Linked DNA regions of Homo sapiens. The protein of the gene in region 6 purifies or fractionates together with the protein of the main gene of each other region. This does not show direct contact. Each region holds a gene or a part of one and is shown on either strand. Other genes may lie near its edges.

Region 1 (4,364 bases), on a different chromosome or scaffold from region 6:
GAAAACCTGCTAGACAAATTCTAAAAGAGCTGCAATGCTTTGGCCTTTCTTGCAGAAACAGAAAAGCTGATCCTCAAATTCACACAGAATTTCAAAGGACCTGGAAGAACTAAAACAACATTGAAAAGAAGAACAAAGTTGGAGGACTCACACTTCTTATATCAAAACTTAGTATTAATCCAAAGCTACGGTTATCATAACAGTGTAGTACTGGCATAAGGACAGATATATAGACCAACAGAATAGAACTGAGAATCCAGAAATAAACTCGTATCTGTGGTCAACTGATTTTCAACCAGAGTGCCAACACCATTTGATGGGGGAAAAATCATGTCTTCAACAAATGGTATTGGTACAACTGGATATCCACAGCAGAAGAATCACACTGGACCCCTACCTCACACAATACACAAAAATTCCTCAAAATGGATCAACAACCTAAATAAATAACTAAAACTATAAAATTCTTAGAACACAGAGATAAGTCTTCATGACCTTGGATTTGTCAATGGATTCTCAGCTATGACACCAAAAGCACAAGCAACAAAAGAAAAAAATAATAACACTTTTGAGCCAGGCATGGTGGTGTGTACCTGTAGTCCCAGCTACTTGGGACACTGAAGTGGGCTGATGTACTTTTCTGCATCAAAGGGCATTATCAAGAAAGTGAAAAGACAACCGGTATACAAATTCAAGAAATAAACACATACATCAAGAAATCCAACAAGAAATATACAGTGCTGGCCGGGCACGGTGGCTCATGCCTGTAATCCGAGCACTCCGGGAGGCCAATGTGGATCACCTAAGGTCAGGAGTTCAAGACCAGCCTGGCCAACATGGTGAAACCATCTCCACTAAAAATACAAATATTAGCCAGGTGTGTTGGCACGCGCCTGTAATCCCAGCTTCCTGGGAGGCTGAAGCAAGAGAATCACTTGAACCCAGGAGGCAGAGGTTGCAGTGAGCCGAGATCAGACCACTGCACTCCAGCCTAGGTGACAGAGCCAGACTCTGTCTTGGGGAAAAAAAAAGAAAAAAGAAATACACAGTGTACAAATTATCAAGAAAGTGAAAAGACAATGGGAGAAAATACTTTTAAATCATTTATCTGGTAAGAGTCTAGCATCTGGATGATATAAAAAACTCTCTTTGAACTCCCTTTAAGTCAACAACCAAAAAACGAGACAACCCAATTCAAAAATGGACAAAGAACTTAAAAAGATATTTCTCCAAAGAAGATATATAAATAGTCAATAAGTTTATGAAGACACTTAACATTAGCCATAACATTAACATGGCCAAATCAAAATCATGATGAGATGCCACTTCACACCCATTAGGATGACTGTTATCTAACAAAAACAAAAAATAACAAGTGTTTGATGAGAAAAGAGAAAAACTAGAACCCTTGTGTATTGCTGGTGGGAATATAAAACTTCCCCAGCAACCTTGGAAAACAGTCTGGCAGTTCCTCAAGAAGTTAAACATAGAATTACCATATGAGTCAACAATTCCTTCTAGGTATATACCCAAAAGAAGGGAAAACAGGTACTCAAATACAAGTATATGAAAATTCATAACAGAACTATTCATAATAACCAAAAGGTGTAAATAACTCAAATGTCCGTCAATGGAAGAATGGACAGGCAAAACATATCTATACATACAGTGGAATATTACTCAGTGATTAAAATGAAAAACTCATACATGCTACAACTTGAACAAATCTCAAAAACATTACAATAAACGACAGATGCCACACATAATAGGTCACATATTGCATGATCCATTTACATGAAATCTCTCTAATACGTAAATCTAGAGACAGAAAGTAGATTGGTATTGCCAGGGGTGGAGGGCATGGGGGAATAGGGAGTGACTGCTTAATGGTTACAAAGTTTTCTTTCAGGGTAATGAAAATGTTTTAGAACTAGACGGAATTGGTGATTGCACAATATTGTGAATATATTAAATGTCACTGAACTTGTACACTTGAACTTTTTTTTTTTGGAGACAGAGTTTTACTCTTGTCACTCAGGCTAGAGTGCAGTGGCATGATCTCCGCTCACTGCAACCGCTGCCTCCCGGGTTCAAGTGATTCTCCTGCCTCAGCCTCCCAAGTAGCTGGAATTACAGGTGCTCACCACCACATCTGGCTAATTTTTATATTTTTTAGTAGAGACGGGGCTTCACCATGTTGGCCAGGCTGGTCTTGAATTCCTGACCTCAGTGAGCCACCTCACCCAGCCCCACTTTAAAATAATTTTATGTTATATAAATTTTGCCTCAATTGAAAAAAAAAAAATCACCTGGGTGCAGTGGCACACACCTGTAGTTCCAGCTCTGCAGCAGGCTGAGGCAGAATGATCACTTGTGCCCAGGATTTTCAAACAGTAGTACACCACGATCATGCCTGTGAATAGCCACTGCACTCCAGCCTGAGCAACATAGCTAGACCCCAACTCTATGAAAAAACAAATGAATAAGGAAACCTGTATACACATCCCCACACAAAAGGAAAGAAGGAAGGGGGGAGGGAGGGAGGGAGGAAGGGAGGGAGGAAGAAAGGGAGGAAGGGAGGGAGGGAGGGGACACAAGAAAGTACTAACTTGGGCAAGAAGATTGAAAAAGAAAATGTTGTTTAGAAAATCTTCTTAGGGTTAAAGTGCCTACCAGCCATCATGTAGCATGCAGCTGGTACTTACTGAGGCAGATCTTTAGTTTGGTTTTGTGTGTCTGATATTTTGACCCCTGTTTTACGTAGAAAGCCTAGACGCTGGAAATAGTGCCATGCAGCCCAGACTCCAGCACACATCAGCCTCCTGGCAAATCTCAATCTTCCTCAGCATCAGTTTCCAGAATGGAAAATGAAGTACACCAAAAGCTTTGACAGCCCTGTATGACTATCAAAGGAAGTACTGCAAATAAATTGTTAGCAAAATGAAGAAATGCAATAGAAATGAAAAATACTGGGACTTGCCTGTTCAACTAAACTCCTCTAGAGTTTACAGTAAAAATACTGATATCCTGTGTTATAGTTTTGGTTTTATCACTTACTTGCTGTGTCACTTTGCAAATTCTACTTCCTGCTCATACTAAATTTTATTTCATAGAGTGCCTATGAGGGTTCAATGAAAAGTTATTAAAATTATTAAAGTGCTACATAGTCAAGTGGTAAGTCAGAAACTTTGGTTTTAGAAAGGCTTGTACTAAAGTCGGAGAAATGTTATGCTTCAAGTCAGAATGGCTTGAAGTCACAGCTCTGCTACTTATAATTCAATCATGGTCATAAGCTGCATTTCTCATCTGTAAGATAGAAGCAAACAGACTTCAGTTTAAAATCTCATACGAATAAAGAAAAAAAGAGATAGGTACCATGGTTCACGCCTGTAATCCCAAAACTTTGGGAGGCTCAGGCGGGAGGATCACTGGAGCGCGGGAGTTCAAAACCAGCCTGGGCAACATAAAGAGACCCCCCATCTCTACAAAAACTAAAAATATTAGCTAGGCATGGTGGCACATGTCTGTAGTTCCAGCTACTCTGTAGGCTGAGGTAGGAGAATTGCTTGGGCCCAGGAGGTTGAGGCTGCAGTGAGCCATGATAGAGCCACTGCACTACTCCAGCCTAGGTGACAGAGTAAGACCATGTCTCAAAAAAAAAAAAAAAAGACAAAAGAAAGAAAAGGAATAAATAAAATAAATCTCATATGAGGCCCTTATAAGGCATACTAACATCTGAGGTCAGGCACGGTGGCTCATGCCTGTAATCCCAGCACTTTTGGAGGCTGAGGCAGGATGACTTGGTTCATAAGTTTGAGACCAGCCTGGGCAACACAGAGAGACCCCATTGCTAAAAAAACTTTTAAAATTAACCACAGGCTGGGTTCGGTGGCTCACGCCTATAATCCCAGCACTTTGGGAGGCCAAGGCAGACGGATCACCGGAGGTCAGGTGTTCAAGACCAGCCTGGCCAACATGGTGAAACCCCGTCTCTACTAAAAATACAAAAATTAGGCGTGGTGGCATGTGCCTGTAATCCCAGCTACTTGGGAGGCAGAGGCAGAAGAATCAATAGAACCCGGAAGGCGGGGGTTACAGTGAGCTGATCTCACGCCACTGTACTCCATCCTGGGCAACAGACTGCGGTCCGTCTCAAAAAATAAAATAAAACAAAAGTAGCCAGGTGTGGTGGTGCATACCTGTGGTCCCAGCTACTCAAGTGTCTGAGGATTGCTTGGGTCTGGGTGGTCAAGGCTGCAGTGAGCCTTGACGGTGTCACCACACTCCAGCTTGGGTGACAGAGTGAAACCCTATCTCAAAAAACAAACAAGACATCTCAGTTTCCTCATCAGTAATAGGGTAAT
Region 2 (4,364 bases), on a different chromosome or scaffold from region 6:
ATATAACAAACTTCCAAAGTAGGTACCATTATTACCTCCTTTTATAATCAAGGAACTGAGAGGCAAAATAACTTGTTCAAGGTCACATAGCCAACCGAACAAGGACTCCAGAGCTCTTAATCACTGTGCCCAGGTAGCTGAAAAACTATAAAGATTTAGAATTGTGAGGCTTAGCTTTAGGTAAGTTACTGTTTTAAAACTCCCTACAACATTTTTCTTAAATAAATTATGTACTGGTTCTCTCCCTACATGCTCTGAACATTAACAATGATTTTCTTTCTATGAAGGGAAAAACTGGTTTTCAAGTAGTTTTCTCCCATGTTAACAGCTAATACTCTGTCCATCCAAGAAGAACAGCTCTTAAGACTAAGAAAATAAAAGAACTCAAAGAAATGAATGATTCCTGAGCTTGGCCCAGGCAGCACAGCTCAGTGGTTAACGGTACCGTTGTGAATCCCAAGTACTAGGCACTGTGACCCAGGCGGGTAATCAATTCAGCCTATGCGTGTTCCCCCCCAAGAATTCTTCCTGGCTGCTGCGTGCTCTCCCCACTTTCTCACCCCACACTATCCCCATCTTATTCTTGCAAGGGTTCTTGATGGGGTTCCATGAACTCCCAAGTGGTCCATGGATAGAATTAAAAGGATCCTTGAACTTGCTAGGACATATCCTCTGTATTTTCATTTATTCCTTTAAAAGCCTCATTCTGAGGAGTCTATGGCCTTCACTGGACTGCCATAGGAGTTCCTAGTACAAAAAAGAAAAGAAATGAGGATAAAGGCAGACACAGGGAAATAAGCTAGGGGGGTTTAATATCAGTCTAGGAAAGAGGGAAACAAATCTGGTTAGGAGTGACAGAAGTGAGAATGGAAACGAAGAGACGGATTCAAGGAAACTCCCCAGGGATTCCTAACAAAATGGCATCTTTCACCTTCCTTCTACTTACCTTCCAAAAAAGAGGAATTGCCTCTACTTCCACTCATTCACTCCTTAAGTCTTTAAGCTTTCACAGCCACCCGCAATCAACCACAAGCACAGCCATGACTTTCAAGCACTTGGGAACATCTAATTGTGCCGACCTCTGTTTTCTCCTCCTGTTTCTTCTTCCTCTGTCCTTCCCTCAAAGCCAAGTGTCCCCAGTGTCCCTGCTCCTCCGGTGGAGATCTGACTTACCGATTCTGTACGGGCAGGTCTCAATGGTCTATCCCAGCCCTAGTGGCTCCCGAGCTCCAATCACACCTTTCCAGCATCCTACATGGTACTGTAACTGCAGGATCCACCCACCACCATCACCTGCAATTCCACATTCTTAAATCTAAATTGCTTGTGTCCCTTTCCAACCTACAATTTCTTCTCCCAAATTCTCTAATCTATCATGGGGCCACCATTCTTCTAAGGGCTCATCACATACAGTTGGGGCTGGGGGAGGAATCCTTAGTGGTAAAGTTCTTCCTTCTACTGCTATGTAGCCTGTGGACCTGCAGCATCAGTACCACCCGAGAGTATGATAAATGCACAGTCTCAGGCAGCACTCCCAACAGATCTGCTGAATTAGACACTGCATTTTAATTTTTATTGTTTCACATTTAGTGGGAGCCTCCATCTGTCACCCAAGCTACAGTACACTGTACAACCATGGCTCCCTGCAGCCTGGACCTCCTGGACTCAGATGATCCTCCCACCTCAGCCTCCTGAGTAGTTCAGGCTACAGGTGTGTGCCACCATACCCATCTATGTTTTTACATTTTTTGTAGAGACAGGGTCTTGCTATGCTGCCCAGGCTGGTCTCAAAATCTTGGCCTCAAGCAATCCTCCTGCCTCAGCCTCCCAATGCATGACTAGGATTACATGCATGAGCCACCTACCCAGCAGCAGAGCCTAATTTAGCAGACTTTTTTTTTTTTTTTAAAAGTCCCCGATTGATAAACACCTTAAATTTTGAGAAACAGGGATCTGGTTCTTTTAATATATCACCATCCAAACTGCATTTGAACTTTATTACTTTTAGGCATCATTTACTGAATCCTTATGATGTGCTAATTACAGTGCTAGGCCTTAAACACAGTATCTCATTTAACTCTCAACCCTGTGAAGTCATATCATTATCTCCATTTTAAGAATGTGAAAATTGAGGCTCAAGTGACTAAATCACCTGCTCAAAGAGCCCATCAGTTCCAAAGTTAGCATTTGAACCTCATCTGTCTAACCACAAACCTTTTTTGCCAAATTGCACCAATTCCCTTCAATTCCAAAATTTGTATTTCGAAGGCTATGCTGGCAGAATTAATTACTCTGGTTGCCTGTATTTTCTAATCAACTTAAGGCAGATTTTGGTGGTTTATTATAATTCTTGCCGGCAACCTATCTAAAGACACAGCAGATCAGGATACCCTGGAAATAGAAATCACTGACCTGACATGGGGCATCATTCTGAGTACTGAAGTTTAGTAACTGTAAGTACTAAGTAACACTAAGTACTAAGTATAAATACTTAGAGTTCACTCTAAAGTATCTGACAAATGGAGAGGAAAATGTATTCTGTTCTCTGGTTATAATCCCAAGTTTTAAGGAGTATAAAACGACTTCCCTAATAAACTTTCTGTATGTCTGCTTGGTATGTTTCTTTCCTCTGAAGATTAAAAAGAACAAAAAAATAGTTTGAGGAGACTAGTTCTTGAATGAATGGTAGCTGGGTTCCACTCAATAATTTCATCTAATGTCTAATTTTAATTTTAATGTAATTGCCTTATTATGTCCTATTCAGTCAAAGTCATTTCACAGTCACTCAAATCACTTTAAAACTTAGTTTCCTTATCTTCTTTCAGTGCCCAAATAAAAACCCATGAACCAAAAAAAAAAAAAAAAAAATTATGATGTATCCAATATGGTCTTTGTCTATTCCAAAAACCAGAGCTTGTGGAGAATATAATCAAAGCTACTGACGCTCCACCAAGGACACCATGAATTCTCCAATCCACACACAACACAGCACATGGTGCTCATCAGGCTGGCCCTCACAGATTCCCACGGTAAAGACCCACGGATGTCCAGAACCATCCAGCTCTATTACTCGGACAGAGACCTGCCTGAAACTGCCTGGCAGGCCCTTTCCCCTCTCTGGGGACTGTTCTTTCCCCAACGCCAACAGGCAAGCGCTGCCATGTTTTTATAACTGCTTAGTCCAAGGGACGGCCACAAATGACCAAGGCCAGACCAATCCCAAGTGGAATCCTTCCACGGTATTTTTATAACTGAATTAGAGACAGGAAACCCTTTTGGGGGAGCAGAAATGACAAAATGTGAAATACAGGAACCGTTCATTCCCTGCTCTGTGGAGGAACCAGCCAGCTATGAAGGAGAACTGAGCCAAAGGGTACAGAAAAGTCCCACGCACTCACACACCCACACACTCAAGCACCCAGCTCTTCACATGGTTCCATTACCAGCCTTTCCTTCTACTGTGATAGGCCCCCCAAACCCCTCAATACCTGACATTTTTGCCAAAGCTCATTTCAACTTCTACAGCTTTAAACCAAAAGCCTCTAACATCAATACTTAGCTACTTCTAAATGCTACATGTTTTAAACAAGTTTTATGTGCTTTAAGATTTTTCTATACAGATAATGTTTTCCTTTGGATATTTAAATAGGTTTTAAAATACTAATTTCTAAAAGGCTCACATTTCACTGTGGATAAAAATCTTTTAGAGTATCTATTTAAAACAAGTCTTGGCTCATATCATTCAACATCCTCCCCACACTATTAAAATATCATCTTAAGACGCTTACTGTTTGATCATTTTTAGTTTAATTCTAAATGTAACAAGACAAAACTGCCTTAAGTCTTTTCCTTTATGTATTCAGTTATATTCTCTGCTTAAAATACTTAAAAATTGGCACTGATCCATTCACTGATGGGTATTTTAAGTTACAAAGCAGTAACATATCAAATTAACCACACAATGGCAGGCTTACTCCCGACTATGACCATTGCCCAAATCAAGATTTTCATTACCACCTCAATGGACTTGAACATTTTCACCTTAATTGCAAGTTGTTATGTTTCAATCAAATCGACTTTGGCTTAATAGACTGCAATGCAGTTCAGCTACATTCAATATAACAAACCCTTAGTTCACAGTCTCTTAAAATCACCATAGATTTCCTTCCCCTGTAGTCAAGGTCTTGAAAATTCCCTGAATGTTGCTGCATTTGGAAGGTTATAATAGTAAGACAACTTTTATATAGTATTCTACAAATCCTAGTATAACACTGTGCACCTAGTAGACTGAAAAAACAGAATCTTGAGTTAGACTTGGAAATCATCCAAACAACCTCAGTTCACAGATGCAAACACTGATGCCA
Region 3 (3,477 bases), on a different chromosome or scaffold from region 6:
CAAAAATTCAATTTCCATAGCATTTTGAATGTCTTTTACCCCAAGCTTGGCTAAACGGCAGTTTTCTATGATTTGGGCAGGGTGATACCTAGGCTGATATATTATAGACTTACAATCTTTTTTTTAAAACGTTTTCTTTTTAAATATATATATATATATATATATATATATATATATATATATATATATAATTTTTTTTTTTTTTTTTTTTTTTTTTTGATGGAGTCTTGCTCTGTCGCCCAGGCTGGAGTGCAGTGGCGCAATCTTGGCTCACTGCAAGCTCCGCCTCCCAGGTTCACACCATTCTCCTGCCTCAGCCTCCCGAGTAGCTGGGACTACAGGTGCCTGCCACCACGCCTGGCTAATTTTTTGTATTTTTTTTTAGTAGAGATGGGGTTTCACTATGTTAGCCAGGTTGGTCTTGATCTCCTGACCTTGTGATCCGCCTGCCTCAGCCTCCCAAAGTGCTTGGATTACAGGTATGAGCCACCATGCAAAAAATTTTGTTTTTAATTGACATCACTAATTACATTAATTGTACATATTTATGGGGTATAGTGTGATATTTTGATATATGTGTATTTAAAACAATAATCTAGTAAGATCAGGAAGTTAAAAGTGGCTGTATTTTTTAATATTACTTTTAAATACTAATATTCTTATTAATTGGATTTTTGGTTGTTTATGAACAAAAGGTAATACTTTAATTTTTTAAATGAATGATCTACATCAATATCTACTGACAGTAGGAATTTGATATAAGTTCTTATGAGTAAAAGATAATATCATAGAATAAGCCCTTTTTTTAAACAAGGAAATGATATATTATTTCTACAAATTTGTTTTTTAGGCATATACCAAATTGTCAATAATGACTATCTCCATGTTACAGGATTTAAAATGGGCCTTTACATTTAGACTTATGAAATGCCATGAAAAGGGGCCTAATTCTTTTGACAGAATTCTGTAAACACAGGATATTTATATATATTTATTCAGTAAACACAATTGTTTCATGTACCAGATTTTTAATGCATTTGAATCTTTATTCTACAACACAAGCAACATAAATACAATATCTTTTAAAATATTTTCTCTTTAGAATTTTCATTTCCACCTCAGATAAAATGTACACAAAATACACTTGCAAGCTTGCTTACAGAGACCTGTTAAACAAAGAACAGACAGATTCTATAAAATCAGTTATATCAACATATAAAGGAGTGTGATTTTCAGTTTGTTTTTTTAAGTAAATATGACCAAACTGACTAAATAAGAAGGCAAAACAAAAAATTATGCTTCCTTGACAAGGCCTTTGGAGTAAACAAAATGCTTCAAGGCTCCTGGTGAATGGGGTTGCAAGGATGAATTTTGCATTTTATAGGTAAAATGGTATACTGACTCAAATCATTATGGCTATAACAAGCTTCATTTATTTATAATCTTCAATGAAAATAAGTTGATTCTTTGGCATAATACTATAAGGAATAAAAGGACCCATACCACCCACTGGCTTTATCTAGAGTGGGAGATAGTAGTAGGGGAACTGTTTATAATGTAATTTGTCTAAGTTTATTCCTCTTAGAAAAGCGGGAAAAGCATATTGAATAATAGTCTCTTAGCATGATTAGGGCAATAAACATCTTATTCTTATCTGTCCCATCCCCACAACACAACACTAAGAAACAAAAATAACTTTTCCCTCTAGGCACCTCCTCCTGCCCCATCATGCCACACCTGGATATTCTATCACATTGTTTCAACTGAAGTGAAACCCAACTTATCAAAAGCATTCATCTTTGTTCAGCTTTGCCTATTTTGTGGGAAATCAATTTTTATTAGAGAGAAGCACTCCCAATAAGAACCAGATGAAAGAAATGTAGGACAAAGCAGCTTGCACATAATCCCGAGGTAGCCAGGGATGCTCACTGGGGCTGGCAGTGTCAGGGCCCGAGCCTCCCTAACTTTAAGAAAAAACATAATCTTTTACACATTGGTTCAAAAGATTGGCTTTTGGATTCCCTCCTCTCCTTTTTGGCACTGGTTGGTAAAACAAAAATAAATTACTCTTAGAGATTGACTTTTGAAATTTAATTTTAAAATCAGTGTTACTAAAAGAACTAAATGCACACATAATTTCCAAAAATTATGGGAAACTAAAGTAAAAAAAAAACCAAAAAAAAACACCCTTATTTCCATCCACAGAGGCAAAAACTCTGTAGATTGTCTCCTTGATATCATCAACATTCTGATATGCTTTCTGATCTCACTAATTCTAGTAAATATAATCATTTCCTTCCATTCCTACAATAGTCTAAACTAATTTAAATGAAGTCAGCATATTTATTAAGCAGAAGTCTTTAGAGAAACCTCATTGAATCAATAAGCATTATGTGTAATTAATACAGTTTATAAATAGGTGATGATTTTTAAGTGACTTGTTTTTTCTTAAATCATTCTCTGTATGGTCCTTAATTTTTTTTAATGGTAAAAGAATTTCCAAAACTAATTAATTCAGTAAAGAAGAGATAAACTAAGGCCCCCTCTATATGAGTTAACATGATTTCACTGAATTCCCAAAGCACACTGATTCACTTTTATATTTTTCCCATTATTTGGAAGATGAAATAATGAATATGGTCTCCACCATGTAGATATGTGCACAAACAACATATTTACTGAAAAGTCAAAAACAGGCACACCTGCTGCTTAAAAGGGAATTAGTTCATTTTGCAAATTTCCGTGAAGCCTTTGGGTAGACTCTTTACAGATATATATGAAATTAAAATGTTAATTTACGCCAGAAAATTAAATGAAAGATGAAGGTACAACAAGTAGTCTCATCTCATCTCAAATGGCTAATATTTTGGTGGCCAATGAAAGATGTAAAACAACTGGCAAGCAAACAACTATTCAAAAATCTGTAAGCCAGGAGCCAAGGCTGTAAAGGAGCTGACATGGAAACATCTCATTAAAACGACATGGATGGAAGAAATTCAAACACTACATACTTAAATTTAAAATCACCTTCAGTACAAGTCAAAGGGTCAACATGATACAAATGATCATCCATAGAATCAATGTTTCTAAATACAAAGACAAGAAGCTTAGATTTATCTCACTGTTCCATAGAACTTATACATTCATTGTCTTCTAGCTTGTAAAAACCAATTGTTGGTATAATAAAACTGGAAACTGGGAAGATTGAGCAAGACTGCTGTATAGAATCCAATCCCAAGTCATCTGCCCAAGGGTAGATTCAGTTTTTCTCTAGCGTTTGATAAGTCAGGCTGATCTTAAAGGTAGAAGTTGGAAATTTTTTCAAGGCAGTGGTTCTCAAAGCATAGTTCCCAAAACAGCAGTATTGGCCTCACCTATAAACTTGTTAGAAATACAAATTTCCTGATTTACTTAACTGGGAACTCTGACCATGAGCCCAGCAATCTGTGTCTTATTTTAAAAAAAGGCCCTCCAGGT
Region 4 (4,857 bases), on a different chromosome or scaffold from region 6:
TCTTTCTCCCTCCCTCTATCCAGGTATACTTTTATCCGCAAAGCCTCTCATCCTCCCTGTGATATTGCTCAGATATAATTGATTTTCTCTTTTGTTTTAGTTTTTGAGACAGGGTCTTGCTATGTTGCCCAGGCTGTCCTGGAACTTTTGGGCTCAAGTGGTACTCCTGCCTCAGTCTCCCAAGTGGCTGGTACCACAGAAGCGTGCCACCACATCCGGTTCTAATTATGTTCATGTATCTGGCTCATCTCAGGTTCCAAATAAAATAAATTTACAGAATTCCACTATACTCTATGTAGATATGTCACATACATTCAAACAGTATAGACAGTATAGCCTGGGGAAAGAGATGACCAGTGAATGGAAAAAAATATTGACTTTAGTTGTTCCCCACTCCTGCAACTGGAAAATATCTCTCCTGAATATCTACCACGTTTTTATTCCCTACAGGTGGCTCTTACAAGTGCTGTGGACTATACATAAGTATATCTGCCTAATCCCAAAGAGAATAAGGTCCTAGACAGGAACCATGTCATTCATATATATATATATATATATATATATATAATTTTTTTTCTTTTTTTAGAGAGACAGGGTCTTACTCTGTCACGCAGGCTGGAGTGCAGTGGCACAATCATTGTCTCTCACTGTAACCTCAAACTCCTGGGCTCAAGCAATCCTCCTGCCTCAGCCTCCTGAGTAGCTAGGACTACAGGCATCACCACTACACCTGGCTAATCTATTTTATTTTGTAGAGACAGGGTCTTGCTATGTTGCCCAGGCTGATTTCAAACACCTGGGTTCAAGCAATCCTCCTACCTTGGCCTCCCAAAGTGCTGGGATTACAGGTGTGAGCCACCAGGCCCGGCCCTGGCCTCATGTCTTATACATATTCACCAGGAGCCTGAAACATTGCTTTGTACAGAATACAGAATGGGGCAAGACACATACTTGAATTCATGAATTGCCAAATTAATGTGAATGAAAACAATTAAGGAAGGAAGAGGAGGAGAGAAAAAAAAAGCAAAGAGAAAAAAGAAAAACTAGCAAAGAGAAAGGAAAAGGAAAGAAGGAGAAAAACTTATGATGACAATTGTTCTTGTTAGAGTTCATAGGACTACAGTATTTTAAAAAACTGAGAGTTGAAAAAGCCATCAATTATGTATCTAATATCAGTTATCAGTACCAGTATTTAAATTGCTATTAAAAACACCTGAAAATACCTCTAAAATTACCTCCCCACACTTGACATTCAAAGTATGGTCTCTGACAGCATCACCCATCAGACATACAGACTTTGGACTCTACTTCAAACCTAGAATATCCTGAATGAATTATGCATGCTAAAGTGTTTGAAAAGACTGCCCTCCACCATTCAGGGCCTTTCTGTTGTACCAAACCTGTTTTGTTTCAATGGGCCAGTAATTAAGACACGAAAAATCTTTGAATGGGATTTGACCTGTACCTATTTAATTTCAGATGAAGTTATTAATTACAATGTAGGTTGGCATATTGGATATACCACAAAATTTAGGAATTAATCATAAAAAATATGATTAAATAAAATTGAGCAGTAGGTCTACAGCATTCTCAAGAACTCATGTTTGCTCTTTCTCATGTCTATCATAGGACTTGGAATGCATATCGCCAGTGTTTCCTGAATGAGCAAAATAAATGAACTTTTAAAAACGAGAGATATTTAGGGGCAGAATAATCTTGGGGGTCATCTGGTCCAACAACCTAATTTTAAAGATCAGCAAACTACAATTTCTGAGAGTTGCAAAAGCAAAGAAAGCTCAAAGAATTAAAATATATTGGGACATTTTAATTCGTTTTGTTCCTTTCGTAGGAATGTGTAAGAAAGGGGACTGTAACTATTATGATTGCTGACTCTTAAAGGTGAAAAGGTGCCTAGGAAGAAGAAACTAGCAAGAGTAAATGAGACTTGGCAAAGCTATTTTTCCAAGCCTAATATATTTTTGACGGGCCAATTAATCAATTTAATCTGCCAAAAAAATTAATCTGAAGGTTTCTCAGAAAAGGAGAGGAGACATGAGCTGCATGAAAATGTTACAAACCAAGGGAGGCTGCACATAACTAACTTAAATCTCCACAGGCTTATTTCCTGTTGAAGTATGGCCTCCTGGGGTAAGTTTTACTGCAGTGTTCATTGCCAGATGACTTTTGGTTTTAACAGAGGCCAAGGGCAAGTTGGAAATGCGATTCTTAACTAAACATTAAAAAGAAAAAAAGAAACTGTGGCTGTTTCCCATTTCTGTTTGTAATCAGAATGCAGGCTTGCGGAGGAAACACACCATCCCCCGCAAGCAAAAATATAACGACACAGTCACGTCCTCAAAACAAACTAACACACAAACTTCCCAGCCGGATCCAGCTGTGCTGCCTGGGAGCTAGGAACTTAATTCTAAGAGCAGACAGATCAAACCGGTGAATGCAAGGGCAGCCACATTTCAATCACAAAAAGGGTGTGCCCTAAGTTTTGGCTCCCCCACTCCGCCGCCCCACTTTCAACAAGCCGAAGCCTTTGAAGGAGGCTCGGTGCCATCTCGGTGTGATCGCGTCCCGGCGACGCTGGGTAGGGTGCAGGGAGCCAGCTCGGCCGCGGCTCAGCGGGAGGGGAGGGGGCCGGTCCCGAACCCGGGCGCCCGGGCCGCGGGTGATTCACTGGGAACGCCAGGTTCGCGCGCCTAGACCGGCGGGCGACGCCCAGCGCGCCCCACGTCCCCCGCCCGGGCCGTTCGCGCAGAAGCAGCCCCCGCGCACCCCTGCTCCCCGAGACGGACCCGTCGGGAAGGAGCCTGGAGTCGGGCGGCCGGCGGGCAGCAACCTCTCCCTCCTCAGCCACCATGGCCGGTGCGACTCCCTACCCGCGCCCGCAGACGGACTTCCTGGAAAGCACCGGGCTGGGCTTACCTGACTGGCGCCCGCAGGGGCCGCCGACCTCTTCACAGACCCACGGAAACTGCCGGCCGCAAGCCGAGGCTCGGTTCCCAGCACCCGCCGGTCCGCCCGCGTCGGCCTCCCAAAGAGTTGCCAGACCCACCCGCCAGCAGCTCCCTCACTCGACCGCCCTGTAGGTGCGGTGGGTTCCTCCTTCGCCTCCGACGCGCGTGCGCACTCCCGTGCCGCGGGGCATCCTGGGAGTTGTAGTTCTAGCAAGAAGGGCGAGGCTCAACGCTGACCCTGGTCTTTACAATGGGCAGAACGTAGGAAGGGGACTGCGAATACCAACCCTTATCCCAGTCTAAGATAATGTTCTCTACCCGTGGAAGTACCTACTATGGACTTCCCCGAAGCTGGAAATAGTATCTAGAGGCTCTTTGGTATAGATTTCCTTTTTACTTTGACCTTTTGTAAAGAAGCGCACATGGCAGGGCTTGCATTGTAGCCTTGGTTGTTAATGCGAGGACATGACATTGGGGCCTTTAAACTGGTCATGACAGAGTTATAGAAAAGTAAAGGAATAAAATCTAAAGCCCAAGAGAGGCATAAATCATGCGAATGTCACCTCCAGGGTGTGGTGACCTTAGTGGTTTTCTTAGGTATGCGTTTCGGGGATGATGTAGCTATTGCAGGGCAGTTTCTGCCCATCCTATCTTCCCTTTCCATCTTCAAGCTCTACACCAGGCGGTGGGGCTGGCTGCTGTAGTGGGAGAAAAAACAGAATAGGCTGCTCAAGGGGGGGATTGGGGCAGATGGGTAGTCTAGAGGGAAGAGGAAGAGTGTGGGAATCTCTCAGAGGACTGTTTGACAGTGGCCTATGTAATGGCTACCTTTTGTGCGAGGCTCTGAGGAGAGGGAACTGCGACATTTTTCCATTTATTCATTTAGTCACTTACTGGGAATTTTCCTGGCCTGCTCTTCAGGAGTAGACCATCCCCAGGAATAATGCTAAACTTTGACACACCTTTCAAAAATGCAGCCAAAGAAGTGGACTGACGTGCCTGCTTGAGGTACATTCCAGCTACACCCAGTGTGCGAGCCACTTCATGGTTTAAACCTCTCCTGGCATCTACTTCTTCCCCTCAGAGGAGGGAGGACCCTAGGTTAGATAAACATCCTGGAATTTCATGCAACTGGCACCCACTAATTTCAGCAATGGAGATCACTGATGGTTTAGGTTTTTAAGGGAAAAAAACCCTTCTTTTTTTTTTTCCAAGACAGAGTCTTGTTCTGCCGCCCAGGCTAAAGTGCAGTGGTGTGATCTCGGCTCACTGCAACCTCTGCCTCCCAGGTTTAAGTGATTCTCTTGTCTCAGCCTCCCAAGTAGCTGGGATTACAGGCACGTGCCACCACACCCAGCTAATTTTTGTAGTCCTAGTAGAGATGGGTTTTCACCATGTTGGCCATTCTGGTCTTGAACTCTTGACCTCATGATCTGCCCACCTTGGCCTCCCAAAGTGCTGGGATTACAGGCGTGAGCCACCGTGCTTGGCCAGGAAAAAACCCTTCTCAATTGCAAATACTTAGAGGACAGTCAACACTCAATCTTGTGGCCATTGCATTTTATTTTCTATACCATCTTTGGGTCAATCTCTTGGAGATAACAGCTTTCTGAGAGCAATTTCCTACAGAATTCAGGTTCATAAGAATGTTTATACTTATAATACATACCAACCACTGGGCCAGCACTTCATTTGTAATATCTCATCTAATCCTCAAAACTAATCTAGTCCTCAAAACTCTATAAAGAATAAACTGGTATCCTCCATTTCTATAGATAAGAAAATGAAGACTCAGAAAAGTTAAGTAATTTGTATAAGGTCCCAGAGCCAGTAATTGGAGATCCAGAGATGAGACACAGTTCTCTTGAGTCAAATTCTAATGTGATTTCCA
Region 5 (4,364 bases), on a different chromosome or scaffold from region 6:
GCAGCTGGGACTACAGGTGCACGCCGCCATGCCTGGCTAATTTTTTTATATTTTTAGTAGATACGGGGTTTCACCGTGTTAGCCAGGATGGTCTCGATCTCCTGACCTCCTGATCTGCCCGCCTTGGCCTCCCAAAGTGCTGGGATTACAGGCGTGAGCCACCGCACCCGGCCTTGCTCAGTGCAACCTCTGCCTCCTGGGTTCAAGTGATTCTTCTGCCTCTGCCTCCCAAGTAGCTGGGATTACAGGTGCACGCCACCATGCCTGGCTAATTTTTGTGTTTTCAGTAGAGATGGGGTTTCACCATGTTGGCCAGGCTGGTCTCGAACTCCTGGGCTCAAGCAATCCACCCGCCTCGGCCTCCCAAAGTGCTGGGGTTACAGGTGTGAGCCACCACGCCTGGCCCAAAGACCCCTTTTCCAAGTAAGGTAACATTTACAGGCTCCAGGGATTAGGATCTGGTATCTTTGCGGACCATTATTGTTTGTTTGTTTAATAGAGACAGAGTCTCACTCTTGTTGCCCAGGCTGGAGTGTGGTAGCACAATCATAACTCACTGTAATCTCGAACTCCTGGATTCAAACAATCCTCTTGTCCCAGCCTCCTGGGTAACTGGTACCACAGGCAATCACCACCACACCCAGCTAATTTTTAAATATTTTCAGAGGAGTCTCACTGTGTTTTCCAGGCTGGTCTCAAACTCCTGGCCTCAAGTGATCCTCCCGCCTCAGCCTCCCAAAGTGCTAGGATTATAGGTGTGCACCAACGTGCCCAGCTGGGGGCTACTATTTAGCCCCTTGCAGGTTCCCTCACACCCTCCCCTTGCAGGTTCCCTCACACCCTCCCTCCCTCCCCACAGGTCTTCCTGCAGTCATCACCACCTGCCTGGCCCTGGGTACCCGTCGGATGGCAAAGAAGAATGCCATTGTAAGAAGCTTGCCCTCCGTAGAGACCCTGGGCTGCACCTCTGTCATCTGTTCCGACAAGACAGGCACCCTCACCACCAACCAGATGTCTGTCTGCAAGGTCAGGAGCAGTGTGGGCAGCGCGCTCAGTCAGAAGGCTGCCTGTGGGGGTTAAATGGGCCCTCCAAAGATAGAGGTCTCCCTTCATCACTGCTGGCTTCTCATCTGGGCCTGCAAAATGCTCAAAGGGCAGTAGAACGCCATCCTGTCTGCCATGAACGGGATCAGAGAGGACCCTTGTGCCCCAGCCAGACAGCTCACTCTGACCACCATCCACGCACCAGGCACTGCCACACATCGTCTCTCATCCCTCACAATAGCCCATTCAGAGGATGGTCTCATTATCTTCATTTTTTTAATTAAAAAAAATTATTATTATTTTGAGACAGAGTCTCACTCTGTCGCCCAGGCTGGAGTGCAGTGGTGTGATCTTGGCTCACTGCAACCTCTGCCTCCCGGGTTCAAGCGATTCATCTGCCTCAGCCTCCCTAGTAGCTGGGACTACAGGTGCCTGCCACCACGCCTGGCTAATTTTTTTGCATTTGTAATAGAGACAGGGTTCGCCATGTTGGCCAGGCTGGTCTTGAACTCCTGGCCTCAAGTGATGTGCCCCTGTTCGCTTCCCAAAGTGCTGGGATGATAGGTGTGAGCCACGGCACCCAGCCTAACTTCCTTTTTTAGAGGAGGAAAAAGCCTCTGAGAGATTAAATGACTTCCCCCAAGATGCACAGTTAATAAATAACAGAGTTGAGCTTCAAACCCGAGTCTGTGTGGCCCCAGAGCTTCTGCCTGTGAAGTAGATGGCTCTCCAGAATGGTCACTCATGACAGGGCCCGGCCAGACTGCCAACACTGACCGTGAACAGCATTTCCTAAAGCAGGGCTCTTAATCTTTTCTGTGCCTCACACCCCTTTGCAGTTGAGCTCTTGTCAGGATAATATTTCAAATGTATATTAATAAAATAAAACAGGCCAGGTGCAATGGCTAACGCCTGTAATCCCAACACTTTGGGAGGCCAAGATAGGCAGATCACGAGGTCAGGAGTTCGAGATGAGCCTGGCCAACATGGTGAAACCCCATCTCTACTAAAAATACAAAAATTAGCCGGGCATGGTGGTGCGTGCCAGTAATCCCAGCTACTGGGGAGGCTGAGGCAGGAAAATTGCTTCAACCCGGGAGGCAGAGGTTGCAGTGAGCCGAGATCGCGCCACTGCACTCCAGTGTGGGCGACGGAGTAAGACTGTCTTAAATAATAAAATGAAATGAAATGAAATAAAATAAAATAAGCCAGGGGTGGTGGCTCACGTCTGTAATCTCTTCAGGAGGCCAAGGTGGAAGGATCACTTGAGCCCAGGAATTCGAGACCAGCCTAAGCAACATAGTGAGAGTCCGTCTCTACCAAAAAAAAAAAAAAAAAAAAAAAATTAGCCTGATGTGGTGGTGCACACTTGTAGTCCCAGCTACTCAGGTGGCTGAGGCAGGAGAATCACTTGAACCCAGAGATTGCTTGAGCCAGGAAGTCAAAGCTACAGTGAGCTGTGATCACACCACTGCACTCCAGCCTGCATGACAGAGCGAGACCCTGTCTCACGCACAAAAAAATAAAATAAAATAGGGCTAGGTACGGTGGCTCACGCCTGTAATCCTAGCACTTTGGGAGGCTGAGGCGGAAGGATCACTTGAGCCCAGGAGTTTTAGACTAGCCTGGGCAACACAGTGAGACCCCACCTTTTAAAAGATAAAATAGAAAGTAAAAAATAAATAAACAAAACAGGATTCTGGGTTTTTTTGTTTGTTTTTTTTTGTTTTTTGAGATGGAGTCTCACTCTGTTACCCAGGCTGGAGTGCAGTGGCCCAGTCTCGGCTCACTACAACCTTCACCTCCCAGGTTCAAGTGATTCTCCTTCCTCAGCCTCCTGAGTAGCTGGGACTACAGGCACGCACCATCACACCCAGCTAATTTTTGTATTTTTAGTACAGATGGGGTTTCGCCATGTTGACCAGGCTGGTCTCTTAACTCCTGACCTCAAGTGATCTGCCCACCTCGGCCTCCCAAAGTACTGGGATTACAGGAGTGAGCCACTGCGCCCGGCCAGGATTCTGTTTTAAAAATACATAGGAAGCTGGGCACGGTGGCTCATGCCTGTAATCTCAGCACTTTGGGAGACCGAGGTGGGTGGATCACCTGAGGTCAGGATTTCGAGAATAGCTTGTCCAACATGGAGAAACCCCGTCTCTACTAAAAATACAAAAATTAGTTGGGCGTGTTGGCAGATGCCTGTAGTCCTAGCTACTAAGGAGGCTGAGGCAGGAGAATCACTTGAACCCAGGAGGTGGAGGTTGCAGTGAGCTGAGATTGCGCCATTGCACCCCAGCCTAGGCGACAAAAGCAAAACTCCATCTCGAAAAAAAATATAAAAGACCTGACGCAGTGGCTCACGACTGTAATCCCAGCACTTTGGGAGGCCGAGGTGAGCAGATCACCTGAGGTCAGGAGTTCGAGACCAGCCTGACCAACATGGAGAAACCCTGTCTCTACTAAAATACAAAATTAGCTGGGCGTGGTGGCACATGCCTGTAGTCCCAGCTACTTGGGAGGCTGAGGCAGGAGAATTGCTTGAACCTGGAAGGCAGAGGCGGTGAGCTGAGATCGTGCCATTGCACTCCAGCCTGGGCGACAGAGCGAGACTCCGTCTCAAAAAAAAAAAAAAAAAAGTAGCCAGATGCGGTGGCTCACACCTGTAATCCTAGCACTTTGGGAGGCCAAGGCGGACGGATTACCTGAGGTCAGCTTGGCCAACATGGTGAAAACCAGTCTCTACTAAAAATACAAAAAATTAGCCAGGCGTTGTGGTGGGCACCTGTAATCCCAGCTACTTGGGAGGCTGAGGCAGGAGAATCGCTTGAACCCAGGAGGCGGAGGTTGCGGTGAGATTGCACCACTGCACTCCAGCCTGGGCGACAGAGTGAGACTTTGTCTCAAAAAATAATAATAATAAAATAAAACAAAAATAAAAAAGTAAAAAAAAAATACATAGGAAAGATACATAGGGTTACAGAGGAAACCAATGATTGTGAAATACAGTTCTATCAAAATTTTTAAAAACAACTTTGTAATTTGGCAACACACATGCTTCTTTATTAAGGCATTAATTAGGGAGTTCTCGCAGTGGGTCTAAGCACTATCATAATGTTGAAGCAGTGGTGAGCATAAATTATGCTATTTTGAGAGATCTGCAACAGTGGTAATGTGATAGGAGGAAAGTATCTGTGATTAAATTGGTGACAGTCACAGGTTTTGCTAATACTAATGTGGTCTGTTGACAACATGCATAACTGGAAGGAAATGTCAAACGTCAGCTTGAGAACAAGAAAAGCTGTCGTTTTTTTCTTGGCTAT
Region 6 (3,628 bases):
GGGGACATCAATGCTTTGGGTGGTGGGATTTCAGGGGTACTGAGAAGGCCTTTTCCTCTCTCCTGAGCTGATGCCATTATCCCATCCCATAGCATGAGATTCCTGAGCGAGTGTTCCTGGCCTAAGTGAGAGTGGAAAGCGGTGTTAGAGCCACTTTCTGTCACATTACAACACATCCCAGAGGGCTGCGCCGGGGGTCATGAAGGAAGTGGAAACCAAGGACATCCAGAGGACAAGGACCTGGGACTAGAAAGGAGGTGGCAGTCTCTGAGTCCTGTGTGTCCTTTCTCCCCATCTTGCTCATGGCTCTAGAGGCCAGGCACTGGTATGGGTTCAGCACACTGCCAGGCCATGAAGCACTTTCTAAGAACAGTATCTAAGACACTGAAAGTCGGGCTTTGTCAGTGAGAACCCTACTAGTCGGGTGGGAGTGGAGGTTGCAGGTGCTTGGTATCTCTGTGGGCTCAGCCTTCATGGTATTCTCCCTGTGTGCATGCCTGTCTCCAAATTTCCACATTTCAAAAGGACACAAGTCATATTGGAGTAGGGGCCCAACCTATTCCAATATGACCTCATCATCGTCACTAATTACATCTGCAATGACCCTATTTCCAAATAAGGTCATAATCTGAGGTACTGGGGGTTAGGACTTCAGACATCCAAATCTTGGGGGGACACAATTCAACCTGTAACAAGGGGGTGGGCAGTTCACAGGAGAAAGGAATTATCCTCTCTCCCCTAACTCATGCTCCTTCTCAAGATTTGTGTCCAAACATTTTAAATCCTTTTAAGACATCATTCATTTAAGGATTTTAGAGTTTTGGAAACCGAGGGAAGGATCTTCCTTATGTTCTGCTTTCTGCCCGACTCCATCTCTTCTTTGATGCAACAGGTTAGTTATGTGAATCCAGGCAAGAACAAAAAATAAAAATAAAAAAATCAGTAAACCAGTGAATATTTCAAAGAGGTGATCCTTCCAGTAAAGTTCACATTTCTTTTCCTGGAGTACTGAGGAGTAAGTCTAAGGCTAGAGGAGCCAGTGGGTAAGGACTGGGGGGTTCAGGATCTCAGTTGTGTCCTCTTTGGAGATAAAAGTTGGCAATCAGCAGTTGTTCATTTAGCAAATAAGAAGAGAGAAGCAGCTTAAAGAAACACACACACATTTATTTTAAAATTTGACATAATCCTTGGGTAATTATTAGCATTTTTCAGAAGTTTCCGAGACTGATATCTCAACTCCAAACCAATAGCAATAGCTTATTTGATTGGTGGAAGGATTAGAGAGGGTCCCATGATCCAGATGAATAGATGGCTATCAAAGAAGACAGAACCCCATAGACACAGGCAGCATTAACTCATAATTTTTAAATTAACTGTCACAAATATGAAACATCTCACCAGACCAATGATAACGTCCATATCATAATTTGCATTTTACCAAAGTGTCCACATAGACAGCACAGAACTAAAAGTTCTGTAGACTTCAGAATCATATTTAAATTAATTTGATCCTTTATATTAATAATAATTAAAAACTAGATTCTACCCAGTGTCGTCCCAGTCTTCACACCAACATGTATGTCCTGCTGTCGGAATGCCACCTCCTCTGCACTCAGTGTCATGATTCGAAGATTAAAATCAGTGTGTCAAATCAGAACATAAACCAAGCCAGGAATTCATGGGCCCAGAGAGGGGTAAGGGGCTTGTCCTATACAGCAGTTAAGCAGCCCACGTGCTCCGCCCATTCCCAAGCAGAATCAGATTGGAGCTGCAGGCAGCGAGGAGGAGGGCGTGTTCTGTGTTGTCCACTGCTTTGCATGGTTTCTTGGGTGTTCCAAGGAGGACAGTTGTTGTCTCCCAATAAGACAGTTAATTCCCTGAGGACAGGACCTCTTCCACACTAGCCTCCGTCACAGCAGGGTGCATGCAGCCGAGGTGTGAGCACAGAGCAGGTCCCTACTAAAGGCAGGAAGGAAACCAGCATGAACTGAGCACCTACTACGTGCCAGGTACAGAGCCAGGACAGGTGCTTTCCTGTAATCCTCACAAAAGCAGTGAGATAGGATCATCATCCCCACTTTACAGGTGTGGAAACAGGCTCAAGGAAGAGCATTTGCCCAGAGTGGCACAGCTAGTCAGTAGGGGAGCATCAATTTGAAAATCCAGGCTTTCTCACTCCAGGGCCCTTTCTAGCTACATAAGCTGAGGGTTTGGCAGTAAATGAGGAGCCCAGCTCCGAGATGGTTAGTTTGGAGCCCAAACATTAGATCCCCTTGAGCACATGGGGCCAGCCTTGAGAGTGCAGAGCCCTGGGTCTAGGAATCCTGGCTCTACAGCATGACTTGGTGATCCTGTGCAAGTCTTTTAACCTCTCCACACCAGGGCTGCGCTGGTCCAGCAGGATTCCCTATCAGGGAGAGGGGACTTAGTAAAACCATCTGGAGAGCATGTCTGCAAACTACAGTGGGCCAGCCTCTGCCCAGAGAGCCTGAAGTTGCTCACTTGCAAGGAAGAGGTGCAGAGCATTGCAATCTGCTACCACACCTCTCACACCTGGTGAGAATCAGTTCTGATCTCCAAGGTTCTGACCTCTGAGAGTGACGTTAAGTCCAGAGAGCCACACCACTACACCCTGAGAGACCTTCAGCAAAAGGCCCGTGAGCTCAAAGAAATTGGGGTCAGGATGCTTTTAAAGCAAAAAATGCTTTAAAAAAAAAAAACAGATGGTGGTTAGGAGAAGATTTGGGGGTAGGTATTGAAAAGGAAGAATGGGACTGGTATGTAAACCCAGCTGACAGGACAGGGTCAGGCCAGGCAGAGCCTGGAGGAATCACGTTTTGTGGCTCTGGATTGCCTGGTATCTGTCGTGAGGCTGCACTTGCTACCTCAGACATGGGTAGGAGGTTTCCTAAAAAAATATCTTGAGTCTCTAAGTTCAGGTAGATCTTAGAAAATAAACATGGGAAGAAAGAAAAACACAATTCAAACGGCTCAGATGTAATCTGCTTGCCATGTTTCTTCTCTTCCTCTAAGACTCATCTGAATGCCCCCTGTGCTATAAAGCCTTCTCTGATCCACAAACACAGTTTTAAGTGCGTGGCCCTCCTGGGTGCACAGAGAGAGCAAGCCCATCTCTCTCCAAATCCCCAGTGCACTGAGCACACTGAATCCTACCTGCCTGTTCAGATGTCTGCCTCTCTCACTGAACCGTAGCAACTTGAGGATAGACACTGTATCCTTCTCTACCTTCCATCTCCACATGGAGAGGGAAAGTGGGCTAACCAAGACCCTTTAATCATAAGCACCCAGTCTAAGGACCAGCCCAACCAGCCAGAGTGATAGGAACACGTTCCAGGGGCATGGACCTCGGGAGCAACTTTTCTCTGGAGGCGCGGAGCATGTTTCCAATCCCCTGTACCACCTACTTGCCCCCCAGAGCCACCCTGCATTGGGCACAATTGTAATTTAAGAGAATTTCTTTAAAACGTGAAATCAATATTTAGATGCAGACTTCAAGCAATATAGAGCATTGGTTTGTGAGAATGGCATCATTCTGCTGGGAAAAACAAAGCCCAGCTTTGGCAGCCCTGATGGGAGAGATAGACCTTGCATCTACCAAGGTGGAAGG
Region 7 (4,364 bases), on a different chromosome or scaffold from region 6:
ACTCTTACTCATGTTTAAGTGGGGAGAGTAATGGAAACTCCCAGGAGAGATCCTTCAATCTAGTTTTGTGGCTAAAAGCAGTAAGGAGAAGTTGAGGAATCTACTTGTAAATGCAGGATGCCTAAGGGCTGACAATTAAGAAGAAAACTGAAAAACTAAAAAGCAGTGTAAAACCTCAGAAGCAAAGATGTCTTGGATCATACTCATAGGAGCAAAAAATAACCTAAATCAAAACAGTTAAGTATGCCAAGGGCCTAACTGAAAATCCAGTCCCTAATTGGCCTGAGTTGTTGAGTTCACATTATATTCAGATGAGTATTATTAAAAACATGGAGAAATAATAAAATATTTAACAAAAACTGGTTAAATGTGTTAAGTGATAGTGTATTTCCCATTAGAGTCGGCTATATATAAAGTTTGTGACACTTCTGTCCTCCAATAGACTTATGTTAAAGACAACATGTGTATTGAAAGTAGCAATTTTATTTGAGTTAAAATTATTTACAAAAACCCAAAGACATACTTCATGAAACTGGTACAAACTATTTTTTCCTGCCGTTGGCTTTTGCTCCAAAGATCACAGCTGAGAAATACTGTATAAAATAAAAATAGGATTGGATTCAGAAAAGTACTCTACTGTTCTAATTTCCAATTGGTAGTATTTACAGAAATATTTACAATGGAAAAAAGGTTACTTTAAAACTTTTAGTTAAGTCAGCCTCAAGTACCCTAAAATGCAGAGTTCTCTGAGGGTTAAAAACACACAAATGCACTGCAGTTGGTGAAGTGATTATCTCCCCCACCACCTCCCCCCACCAAAATCTGCATCTCTATCAGTGCTCGACAATTAGTTATTATTTAAAAAACAAAACAAAACAAAAAACTGTTAAACACTGAGGTAAATCAATTTTCAAATGATTACCAGTGTAACAGAAAAATGCAGTTCGCCCTGATTGTTCTCATCCAAATGTTTTATAATATTCCTTACCATCTGCCACAAGTCAGGTTCACCAAAAATCTGTCCCTTTCCCTAAATCCAATGATTAATAAATATCAATGTATTTTGCATTTTAAAATAAAATATAACTAATTTAATTTTACGGGTATCATTTACCAATATGTTTTTAAAAGTATTTTGCTAAGCTAGCTTTAATACTCAGGGCAAATACAATCTCAATGGTTCCCACGTTACACTGGCGTACTATGTTCTTAAAAGGTGATGGGTAGGGGTTGGGGTGGGTAGAAGGAAGAAAACAATTTGCCTGGAATCAGTTACTTCCTTACAGATTTCCCAACAATCTGCATTATCAAAAATAGGAAGACAATAGAAGGCAGCCACTGCATTTAAAAACATTACAGCTGGCACTGATACAAGAGCCCCGATTTGTCACTTTATACAAGGAAATAACAAAGTCTAAATGGGTAAAAATTAGACTTTTAGCTATTTTCCCCAATACACACCAAACTAATATTTTTATGGCTTCAAGTTTTACAAATCCAATGAAGAAACATGATGTAACTACCTGAAAGGTATTTAAAAGTATTAATGAAAAAGATCTCTAGAAAGCCTGTATTCAGGCCCAATCAATAAAAAAGGAAAAAAAAAAGTATAACCAGTGGTGTGAATAATACAAGAAAAATTTGCAATGTTATGATATTAAATCTATAAAATGTTTTGTGTTCCATAACTGTTTTTCAAATAACTGCTCTACGAACAAAGAATCTGAATGAAAAAAGGGTCTTCTCTAAACCAGCAATTTAAGGCTTTGCGCTTATGCAATTGATCCTGTCACTCTATAGAAGAATATACATGTTATCTGGAAACAGGAATTCCACATTGGTGTTTTAGCTTCCTTATATTTATTGTACTGAACATTAGAAAATATATCTAGAGAGTCTTTCCTCAAAATCTAATAATGTTTTAAGAGCCTCCCTAGCATTAAGTGTAAACTACCCTGGGTTTGACTATTTTGCCTCCTCCTTTTAACAGGGCACATCATCTTATATAATATTCTCTCAAACTGTTGTTTTTCTTGTGCCTATAGCTATGACACATTATGGTATGATATTGAATATGGTTGTGGTCTCAAAAGTAAAAAATAGTTCAATAACCCAAACCTAATCAAGAATAAAAAAATATACTATTAATCCCGTGTATCTTTGGATTCCATCTAATTTTAAATATAGACAGTAGTTCAGGGAACAACAACCAAAAAATTCACAAAATTATTAAAAGCTTTATTTACGATTGGAATCATTCAACAAAAAAGCAAAAGCAAATGAGCCTGAAAAAGGAACTAAGCTGTTGTCTAGAATGTCCTCAGAACATTCGCTACCTCAGTAGCTAAGCTGCCTTTGCACCTGGCTGGCATGACAACAGTGGCTCAACATACACAGCAGTTGCACTAACAGCAGCACAAATTTTCCCCTTCAAACTTGCCCAGAATAAAGCAAGAAAACAAGGGGAGGGTATAAACTCTGCCAAAGTAAATGTATTTAAATACTGCATGGAATTGTTAACAGCCTGAACCTTTTCCCCTCATTTTTGATAGTTGCAGATTGATGTAGTAACTGTCATTTAGCAAATGCCGAATGCATGACGAAGAAATCAGGTGGCCTTAAAAATCCAAACACGAATGATACTGATGAATGTTCTTGGTATATCTTCAAGGACTTCTTTCATGACTTGACTTTTCTTTGTCTAAGGATAGCTCCAGCATTACCGAGCACCTGAAGCAAAGGTAAAGCAGCTAGCAATGTTCCAAATATTCAATCACTCTAGAGATAGATTTCTGGCCAGTTGTTCCAACAGCACACTGAAAGCAGGGTGAAGGGGAAAGGAAGTAACAGTTAATATTTAACAGATTTTAAGAAGTATAAATAAAAGTTTACCTCTAGATTTACTAAACTGAACACTACAAATCAAAGTACACCGAGATTAAATTGTGGGTTTGATAAAGTTATTTGCCATAACATGCAATGATTACCTTGAAGAAATAGAACACGATTATTAAAATTAAAAGAAAATCCCTTTTTGCTCCCACTTACTATGGCCATAGTATTTTTATGTCTACTGTCAATGTATTATAAATTTAAAATCATATAAGCTGTAATAAAAGCTACTTACAGTGAGATTCATAAAACTCAAAAATTTTTTGAGCATCTCTGTCATTATTGAAAAGTCTCCTTCTGGCAGATATTCCCGCACAGTGGTTACATTGATCTGAGGAAACAGAGCAAGAAATATTGGTCAGCTGGCAGAAAACATGAGATTGCACCTCGTACAATGTTGTTGGTTTTGACACACATCTTGGTGCAAATTTTTAAGATCCTTGGAACACGTGGTTATTTATTCTCTTTCCACACTCACTCTGCATGTGATTTCCTACCTCACCCTCAGAAAGAAAGGAGAAAGGTAAAGTTGGCAAAAGCTACAAAGAAATATTTGTGTACACATTTACTTTTTTTTTTTTTTTTTTAAATGAAACAGTCACTCTGTTACCCAGGCTGGAGTGCAGTGGTGTAATCTCAGCTCACTGCAACCTCTACCTCCTGGGTTCAAGTGATTCCCATGCCTCAGCCTCCCGGGTAGCCGGGATTAAAGGCACGTGCCACCATGCCTGGCTAATTTTTGTATTTTTAGCAGAGACGTGGTTTCATCATGTTGGCCAGGCTGGTCTCGAGCTCCTGGGCTCAAGTAATCCACGCACCTTGGCCTCCCAAAGTGCTGGAATTACAGGTGTGAGGCAGCATGCCGACCTACTTTCATAAATGCAAAGAAAAAGGCCTGAAATAACAAACTGCACTGTTTAATGTATGTGTGTGTTTCACTGGGGGCCCTGGGGGAATAGGAGAAGAGGGTGAGGACTTTAGACCTGAGAATGTACTCACAAAGCTGCTCATGAAATAAAAAGATCAAAGAAAAATTCACATCCTTCACAGATGAATTCAACTAATTATATAGGACAGGAATTAACTAGAAGCATCTTTCCAAAGGCAATCTAACCTCATCTATGATAGATTCTCAGACAATATCAGGAGAGAAAACCCTTCATTATTAGCAAGAAGCAGCCAAACTATATATAAACCAATCTGTTACATGGAAAACATTACACAACCTGCTTAAAAAACTATTTCATTAAAGAATGCTTTAAATGTTTTACGGAGAATAAAAAGAAAAAATCTTTTAGGAAGGTTCACCTGTAGTAAGGGGCAAAAGAAAGTATACTGTCCCAAGTTTGGGGACACAAGGTAAAGGGTTAAACAAAACCAACCAAAAAACAAAAAGAAAACACACAAAAGCTCCCAATTCGACTTTTGTTAGCGGGGGCAAAAAAGGAGAGATGACATATTTCTCTTCAGAA

The links.
Region 1: the proteins of ST6GAL1 (region 6) and USP28 purify together in Homo sapiens (affinity purification with mass spectrometry; 2 studies listed by BioGRID and IntAct, with this or other methods). This does not show direct contact.
Region 2: the proteins of ST6GAL1 (region 6) and PIP4K2A purify together in Homo sapiens (affinity purification with mass spectrometry; 2 studies listed by BioGRID and IntAct, with this or other methods). This does not show direct contact.
Region 3: the proteins of ST6GAL1 (region 6) and ARFGEF3 purify together in Homo sapiens (affinity purification with mass spectrometry; 2 studies listed by BioGRID and IntAct, with this or other methods). This does not show direct contact.
Region 4: the proteins of ST6GAL1 (region 6) and TMOD3 fractionate together in Homo sapiens (co-fractionation; one large-scale study listed by BioGRID). This does not show direct contact.
Region 5: the proteins of ST6GAL1 (region 6) and ATP2A1 purify together in Homo sapiens (affinity purification with mass spectrometry; one large-scale study listed by BioGRID and IntAct). This does not show direct contact.
Region 7: the proteins of ST6GAL1 (region 6) and WAPL purify together in Homo sapiens (affinity purification with mass spectrometry; 2 studies listed by BioGRID and IntAct, with this or other methods). This does not show direct contact.

The regions. Positions count from the first base shown.
Region 1 is NC_000011.10:113,865,274-113,869,637, forward strand, and holds part of USP28 (ubiquitin carboxyl-terminal hydrolase 28), read right to left. Parts: intron 41-4,364; exon of another isoform or gene 1-40. UniProt on the Homo sapiens protein: Deubiquitinase involved in DNA damage response checkpoint and MYC proto-oncogene stability. Involved in DNA damage induced apoptosis by specifically deubiquitinating proteins of the DNA damage pathway such as CLSPN.
Region 2 is NC_000010.11:22,707,215-22,711,578, forward strand, and holds part of PIP4K2A (phosphatidylinositol 5-phosphate 4-kinase type-2 alpha), read right to left. Parts: intron 1-4,364. UniProt on the Homo sapiens protein: Catalyzes the phosphorylation of phosphatidylinositol 5-phosphate (PtdIns5P) on the fourth hydroxyl of the myo-inositol ring, to form phosphatidylinositol 4,5-bisphosphate (PtdIns(4,5)P2). Has both ATP- and GTP-dependent kinase activities.
Region 3 is NC_000006.12:138,342,165-138,345,641, reverse strand, and holds the end of ARFGEF3 (brefeldin A-inhibited guanine nucleotide-exchange protein 3), read right to left. Parts: 3' UTR 979-3,477; downstream 1-978. UniProt on the Homo sapiens protein: Participates in the regulation of systemic glucose homeostasis, where it negatively regulates insulin granule biogenesis in pancreatic islet beta cells. Also regulates glucagon granule production in pancreatic alpha cells.
Region 4 is NC_000015.10:51,827,914-51,832,770, reverse strand, and holds the start of TMOD3 (tropomodulin-3), read right to left. Parts: upstream 3,119-4,857; 5' UTR 2,935-3,118; intron 1-2,934. UniProt on the Homo sapiens protein: Blocks the elongation and depolymerization of the actin filaments at the pointed end. The Tmod/TM complex contributes to the formation of the short actin protofilament, which in turn defines the geometry of the membrane skeleton.
Region 5 is NC_000016.10:28,887,928-28,892,291, forward strand, and holds part of ATP2A1 (sarcoplasmic/endoplasmic reticulum calcium ATPase 1), read left to right. Parts: intron 1-859; coding exon 860-1,026; intron 1,027-4,364. UniProt on the Homo sapiens protein: Key regulator of striated muscle performance by acting as the major Ca(2+) ATPase responsible for the reuptake of cytosolic Ca(2+) into the sarcoplasmic reticulum.
Region 6 is NC_000003.12:187,076,069-187,079,696, reverse strand, and holds the end of ST6GAL1 (beta-galactoside alpha-2,6-sialyltransferase 1), read right to left. Parts: 3' UTR 1,144-3,628; downstream 1-1,143. UniProt on the Homo sapiens protein: Transfers sialic acid from CMP-sialic acid to galactose-containing acceptor substrates. In B lymphocytes, generates neuraminidase-sensitive lymphocyte cell-surface differentiation antigens, such as CDw75, HB-6 and CD76.
Region 7 is NC_000010.11:86,434,793-86,439,156, forward strand, and holds the end of WAPL (wings apart-like protein homolog), read right to left. Parts: intron 3,224-4,364; coding exon 3,128-3,223; intron 2,817-3,127; coding exon 2,751-2,816; 3' UTR 464-2,750; downstream 1-463. UniProt on the Homo sapiens protein: Regulator of sister chromatid cohesion in mitosis which negatively regulates cohesin association with chromatin. Involved in both sister chromatid cohesion during interphase and sister-chromatid resolution during early stages of mitosis.